2 linked regions of the Homo sapiens genome follow. The protein of the gene in region 1 purifies or fractionates together with the protein of each later gene. This does not show direct contact. Each region holds a gene or a part of one and is shown on either strand. Other genes may lie near its edges. The genes, in order: SIPA1L3 and ITGA6.

Region 1 (3,818 bases):
ACCTATCGGGCCATCCCCAGCGATGGTGTGGACCTGGCAGCCAGCTGTGGCGCCAGGGTGGGCGATGTCCTCCCTGGGCCACACACAGGGGACTACGCTCCCTTGGGATTCTGGGCCCAGAATGGCAGCATGTCCCAGCCTCTTGGCGAGAGCCCGGCCACCGCCACCGCCACCGCCACCGCCACCACCCGCCCCAGCCCCACCACTCCCGCAATGCCCAAGATGGGCGTGCGCGCAAGGGTGGCCGACTGGCCGCCCAAGCGGGAGGCCCTGAGAGAGCACAGCAACCCAAGCCCCTCCCAGGACACAGATGGCACAAAGGCCACCAAGATGGCCCATTCCATGAGGAGCATACAGAACGGACAGCCCCCCACCAGCACCCCGGCTTCCTCAGGGTCCAAAGCCTTCCACCGACTCTCCAGGAGAAGGTCCAAAGACGTGGAGTTCCAGGACGGGTGGCCCCGGTCCCCCGGCAGGGCCTTCCTCCCCCTTCGGCACCGCAGCAGCAGCGAGATCACCCTCAGCGAGTGTGACGCGGAGGACGCGGGGGAGCCGCGGGGGGCCCGGCACACGGGGGCGCTGCCCCTCTTCCGCGAGTACGGGAGCACCTCGTCCATCGACGTGCAGGGCATGCCCGAGCAGAGCTTCTTCGACATCCTGAACGAGTTCCGCAGCGAGCAGCCCGACGCCCGAGGGTGCCAGGCCCTCACCGAGCTCCTCCGGGCAGATCCTGGCCCACACCTCATGGGGGGCGGCGGCGGAGCCAAGGGGGACTCCCACAACGGGCAGCCCGCCAAGGACAGCCTCCTGCCACTGCAGCCCACGAAGGAGAAGGAGAAGGCCCGGAAGAAACCTGCGCGGGGCCTCGGCGGCGGGGACACGGTGGACTCGTCCATCTTTCGGAAGCTAAGGAGCAGCAAACCCGAGGGGGAGGCTGGGCGTTCCCCGGGGGAGGCCGACGAGGGCCGGAGCCCCCCGGAAGCCAGCAGGCCGTGGGTGTGTCAGAAGAGCTTCGCCCACTTCGACGTGCAGAGCATGCTGTTCGACCTCAACGAGGCGGCCGCCAACAGGGTGTCGGTGTCGCAGCGGCGGAACACCACCACGGGTGCTTCGGCCGCTTCCGCCGCCTCGGCCATGGCCTCCCTCACGGCCTCGCGGGCCCACAGCCTCGGAGGCCTGGACCCGGCCTTCACCAGCACAGAGGACCTAAACTGCAAGGAGAACTTGGAGCAGGACCTCGGCGATGACAACAGCAACGACCTGCTGCTCAGCTGCCCGCACTTCCGCAATGAGATCGGGGGCGAGTGTGAGCGCAACGTGAGCTTCTCCCGGGCTTCCGTGGGCTCCCCGAGCAGCGGCGAGGGCCACCTGGCAGAGCCCGCCCTGAGCGCCTACCGCACCAACGCCAGCATCTCGGTGTTGGAAGTTCCCAAGGAGCAGCAGCGGACGCAGAGTCGGCCCCGGCAGTACAGCATCGAGCATGTGGACCTGGGCGCCCGCTACTACCAGGATTACTTCGTGGGCAAAGGTGACGGATGGCGTGTGGGTGGGAAGGTTGGGTGGGCCGAGGCTTGCCTCCGAGACCCCCACTACTCATTCATTCACTCTGTGCCAGGCCCTGCTCTGGCACTGAGGATGTGGCGGGAACAGAGACCTCCCTTCTGGAGGGCTGTGAGGATCCGGTGAGCAGAGCCACCCGGGCCTCAGCCCTGTGTCTGACACAGCAGCACTCCATAAACCTTGAGCTACAGGACACAGCTCTGCATTTACTCAGCACATATGGACTTGGGGACAGCTCAGTGCCAGGCACTCTCTAGAGCCTGGGGATGTAGTATCAACCAGCTTAAAACAAATGTTCTGTCTTCCTAGTACTTATAATGTTTTCATGGGTAACACAAACATAGAACAGGATAAATACGAAAAATACACAAGGGATTGTAGGCTGCTAAATGCAGTGGAAAAGAGTACAGCAGGGAAGAAGGAAATGGAGTGTCGGAGGGTGGGGGCAGATCCCAGTGGGGGATGGTCAGAGGGGGCCTCCGAGGCAGGTGCAGTTTGAGTACCAAGCTGAAGTCACCATGTGCAAATTGCAGACACTGTTCCCAGAACAGAGCAGCGAATACAAAAGTCTTGGAACTGCCCGGCGCAGTGGCTCACGCCTGTAATCCCAGCACTTTGGGAGGCTGAGGCAGGCGGATCACTTGAGGTCAGGAGTTCAAGACCAGCTTGGCCAACATGGTGAAACCGCATCTCTACTAAAAATACAAAAAAATTAGCCAGGCATGGTGACATGTGGCTGTAATCCCAGCTACTTGGGAGGCTGAGGTAGGAGAATCGCTTGAACCCAGGAGGCAGATGTTGCGGTGGGCTGAGATCATGCCACTGCACTCCAGCCTGGGTGACAGAGTGAGACTCTGTCTCAAAAAAAAAAAAAAAAAAAAATTGAGAATTGCTTGTAACTGCTAGTAACAGGCTTAAACAACATAGAAGGGACTCTCCTGTGAAGAAATCCAGAGTTCAGCAGCCCAGGGCTGGTATGGTCAGTCTTAAGCATCAGTATGGTCAGCCTTAGTGCATGGCATGATCCCCCACTGCTCCACACCAAGATGGCTGCTGGAGTGCCAGGCGTCACATCTGTGTTTCCAGGCAGAGAAAAAGAGGAAAGGGTAAGGACAAAAAGGCAGACCTCTTGTCAAGTCAACCCCCTTATGCCCTTATGCCTAGTGTTTCATTATTGGAACGCTAAGCATGTGGGAGTTATAGCCTACTGCTCAAGGACATTGCCAGGGTCTGAATTTTTACTTGTGGAAAAATTCAAAAAATTGCAGCCTCCGGCATAAATGCGTTAAAGAGCTTTCTCAGAAGCCCGGTCCAACTACTTGCACTTAGTGGCCACACCTGTGTGCAAAAGAGGCTGGGAAACGCAGGTTTTTAGCTAGACAAAGTTTTTCTTTTCCAAGAATAGAGGGCTTTTCTTAAAAAAAAAAAAAAAAAAAAAAGACGAAGTACTAGCAGCTAGTACCCCACAGCAGCTAGGTTTTTTTTTGTTGTTTTTTTCTTTTTCTTTTTTTTTTTTTTTTTTTGAGGCAGTCTCGCTCTGTCGCCTCGCCCAGGCTGGAGTACAGTGGCGCGATCTCAGCTCACTGCAGCCTCTGCCTCCTGGGTTCACGCGATTCTCCTGCCTCAGCCTCCTGAGTAGCTGGGATTACAGGCGCTCGCTATCATGCCCAGCTAATTTTTGTAGTTTTAGTAGAGACAGGGTTTCTCCATGTTGGCCAGGCTGGTCTCGAACTCCTGACCTCAGGTGATCCACCCACCTTGGCCTCCCAAAGAGTTGGGATTACAGGCGTGAGCCACCATGCCCAGCTCACAGCAACTAGTTTTTAAAAATATTTAAAGTAATATCCTTGTCAAACATAACAAATGTCAGTTAAGTCATCCCACAGGACACTGGAGCTCCAACTTGGAGTCAGACAGCCCTCGGTTTGGGGTATCTGTTCCATAGCTGATCCACGTGATACGTTTTACCCTTCAGACTGTGTGACAAATGAAGATGATTATATCAATATCACATGCACAAACAGAATGACACAGAGATTGAAAAGAAAGGGATAAAAAAGAAGTTCCAGGCCGGGCACGGTGGCTCACGCTTGTAATCCCAGCACTTTGGGAGGCCAAGGTGGGTGATCACAAGGTCAGGAGATTGAGACCATCCTGGCTAACACGGTGAAACCCTGTCTCTACTAAAAATACAAAAAATTAGCCGGGCATGGTGGTGGGCGCCTGTAGTCCCAGCTACTCGGGAGGCTGAGGCAGGA
Region 2 (3,818 bases), on another chromosome or scaffold:
GCAGCACTGCCCTCCAGTCTGGGCAACAGAGCAGGACCTTACCTCAGAATGTTTCATTTAGGGATTACTTATGATTAAAATACTTGATTGTAATTGCACTGGCCAAGAAACCAATACTTTGGTCTTTAAGATGGATGGCTGTGGATTTTATAAATTTACTTGCTGTCAGAACATTTGAAAATATGAAGCATTTTTTCTCAAACACATTTGCCACTTTTAGAATGGATTTCCTCAAAAGTGAATGCCTGAGAAAGAAATCAAATTCATATTGTTACATTCGGTTTGTCTGTACTGTGTGGAATCTGTCACTTCAAAAGATCAGAGGGTTTGGGGGAACAAAACGATCTGCTTGAGGTTTTGGAAGCTGGCAATGAGAGCAGCTTGCCGGATGCAGTGGTGGCCTCCTCATCCAGCGAGAACAGCAGTGGCTGTCCTGCCTCTTACCAAGCATAATTACTTTTTCTTCAATTTCTTCCGTCCCGTGCATGCGTACAGGCCTGCTGTTTTTGACCAGCGTTTCCTATACAGATCCTGATCAGTTTGTTTATAAAACACGGCCTCCCCGGGAGCAGCCTGACACATTCCCTGATGTGATGATGAATAGCTACCTAGGTTTGTGACCTCTGCGACGACAAATAAATTGTCTTGGTTGTGGTCATTAAATTTTTTTTTTTGATCCATACAGAGCATAAATCTTTTTATGCCCTATTTTGTTTCCATTGAAGCACACACAAAAAGCATGCCATGGCTGGGGCTCTGTGGCCAGATGGTTGTAAGAGCTGGACTCCATATTGCCCTCTAATCTGGTGGCTCATGTTTTTCAATTCACTTCACAATTTGAGAACTGCAACGGTAGTGGTGAAGCTTTTCATAAGTAAAACCCAATAAAGGGGGTGAGCTTATATTATTCTGCATCTGCCTCACCTTTCTATAGAAACATTTACTTAATTTGAATGGTTTTGATATGGGCACTTCTATTTGCTTTTCACCAGATCTGTTATTTGTAATCTGACATCCTACCTGATGCTTTATAATGGGTGTGTCCTAATGTTTTCTGCCCTCTGAACAAGTATATAACTGATACCAATGACAACTTCCTCACCTCTGTTGTTTATACTAGGTTCTCAAATACCATGTATCATCAGTCATTGTTTTGTCTGCATGTTTGTGTCTGAGAACTAAGTTGGTCCAAAACAATGAAATGCTATCTATGGTGTATTAATGATGTTAGCATTTGTTTTTGTCTGATTACCAAAGAGTTGATGCCTCTTACCAAGCTTAATTACTTTTTCTTCAATTTTATTTTATTCCTGTAAAAATACTGGTCATTAAATTACAGCAGAACCCTGTAACATGCACTCAATTATGCTTCCAGTCAGGTTATATATTCTCTGTGTATATGATGTAACATAACCAAATTATTCCTGGACAATTCAGTATCTAGCTTGATCTCCTTTTACCATAGTTCCAATATTAAAATAGGGTGGAAATTGATTCTTAAGATGTATGAATACTTCAAAATTCAAGTTATACATAGGTGCTTTTAGTTAAAAGTCTTAATATCCATAGAAAGCAGTAAATTAGCTAGCCCCAGGACTTTGTCCTTGTGTCACATCTGAACTCTGTCACTCATATTACGAATGTGATAGCTGGTGGGAGGGTCAAGAGGAGAGAGGGGTGGGAAGCCAGAGGAAGAGGTAATGATGGAGTTACCAATGTCATAGGCCTAAAATATATGGATTGATGTGAGGGGCTCTATATATTTTGTTTTTCTAGGTTTTTCTTTGGACTCAGGGAAAGGTATTGTTTCTAAAGATGAGATCACTTTTGTATCTGGTGCTCCCAGAGCCAATCACAGTGGAGCCGTGGTTTTGCTGAAGAGAGACATGAAGTCTGCACATCTCCTCCCTGAGCACATATTCGATGGAGAAGGTCTGGCCTCTTCATTTGGCTATGATGTGGCGGTGGTGGACCTCAACAAGGATGGGTGAGAAAGCCTCAGGTTATATTATGCTGCAAATCATTTCTGCTTTGACTAGCTTCTATACGACTGGAGAAGAGCCGTCCTTTCAGGTTCATTGACGTAAAGAATATTTTTATTGCCGCATTTTTACCAGCCTATCTTTATCATTTCTATGATGGCAGCAGACAGACATTCATATCCCTCCCCAGCGTATAGGATTATATTTTTGATTTTCAGTTTTTACTTATATGTTGGGATCATGAGTCTATGAGAATTAAAATTTGAAAAAAATTGACTCAGAAAACACTTGCATGATTCTGTTCTGTGGTTTCATATGGGGCTGATGGAGCATCAGCTCCCGTTGAAAACAGGAATTGGTGATAAAGTAAAAAACAGATATGTGGCTGTTGGTGCCAGTTGGGGGGGTTAGAACAGTGAGGTCTTAATGGGAGTCCTGCTGTACTATGGTTCTAACTCGAGAAATTGGCTTTGAGTTCTTACCCTTAGTATTTTTCTTGGGGCGTTTATTATAGGCTACCTTGGTTTTTAAAAAATGTTATAATTGAGTCATAAATTCTGGAGTTGAGGGCCTTTCTATTATATGTCTTTGTATCCTTAGTACCTAGACTGGTGTTGCTGGTATGTTAGCTGTTGGTTCACGGCTCTTTCCCCTCATTATGTTTTTAGGTGGCAAGATATAGTTATTGGAGCCCCACAGTATTTTGATAGAGATGGAGAAGTTGGAGGTGCAGTGTATGTCTACATGAACCAGCAAGGCAGATGGAATAATGTGAAGCCAATTCGTCTTAATGGAACCAAAGATTCTATGTTTGGCATTGCAGTAAAAAATATTGGAGATATTAATCAAGATGGCTACCCAGGTAGATAATAGATTATGAAATGGCTATGATTTATAGATTATTTGATTGTTTAAATAATAGCGCTGCTGGGCACAGTGGCTCACGCCTGTAATCCCAGCACTTTGGGAGGCTGAGGTGGGCGGATCACCTGAGGTCGGGAGTTCGAGACCAGCCTGACCAACATGGAGAAACTAAAAATACAAATTAACTGGGTGTGGTGGCACATGCCTGTAATACCAGCTACTCCCAGCTTTGGAAAGCTGAGGCAGGAGAATTGCTTGAACCCGGGAGGCAGTGGTTGCGGTGAGCCAAGATTGCGCCATTGCACTCCAGCCTGGGCAACAGGAGCGAAACTCCATCTCAAAAAAAACAAAAAAAAACCCCGAAAAAGCCAAACAAATAAATAATAGTGCTTGTGTCATCTTACTTTAAAACATTTTACTAGAGTGTTTCTAAAGCGTTTGTTAAAATGTTAAAATGTGATGTTGTCAACAGATATTGCAGTTGGAGCTCCGTATGATGACTTGGGAAAGGTTTTTATCTATCATGGATCTGCAAATGGAATAAATACCAAACCAACACAGGTAACCAAATAACCGGGATTTCTACAGCTAGAGTCTCAACTTTTTGCCCTATAATAAAATATTTAGGTTTAAGTGACTTTTCACACAAATCTTATTTTATTTACAAGTCCACAATAGTATAAATTTTTTAAAAATGTATTACTAGAAGATACCTTCAAAATAAATATATAAATGTAATGACTTGCTTGTTCTAATTGTAAAATTTCTTAGATAAGTTAGGAATCAAGGTAATCCAAAGCAAATGAATGTTATTCTACCCTGACGGCATTAAGATAAGAGGAAATACGATATATTCTCTTTAGTAGCATACTAAATAGAGATGAAATTGGTCAAACAAAATAAATGACTGTAACTACATGGAGAATGTAGACACCAAAAATTAAAAATGTCTTTTGAGAAAAATAAGACTTG

Evidence for each region.
Region 2: the proteins of SIPA1L3 (region 1) and ITGA6 purify together in Homo sapiens (affinity purification with mass spectrometry; one large-scale study listed by BioGRID and IntAct). This does not show direct contact.

The regions. Positions count from the first base shown.
Region 1 is NC_000019.10:38,081,572-38,085,389, forward strand, and holds part of SIPA1L3 (signal-induced proliferation-associated 1-like protein 3), read left to right. Parts: coding exon 1-1,528; intron 1,529-3,818. UniProt on the Homo sapiens protein: Plays a critical role in epithelial cell morphogenesis, polarity, adhesion and cytoskeletal organization in the lens.
Region 2 is NC_000002.12:172,472,279-172,476,096, forward strand, and holds part of ITGA6 (integrin alpha-6 isoform b preproprotein), read left to right. Parts: intron 1-495; coding exon of another isoform or gene 496-612; intron 613-1,776; coding exon 1,777-1,987; intron 1,988-2,650; coding exon 2,651-2,844; intron 2,845-3,318; coding exon 3,319-3,407; intron 3,408-3,818. UniProt on the Homo sapiens protein: Integrin alpha-6/beta-1 (ITGA6:ITGB1) is a receptor for laminin on platelets. Integrin alpha-6/beta-1 (ITGA6:ITGB1) is present in oocytes and is involved in sperm-egg fusion.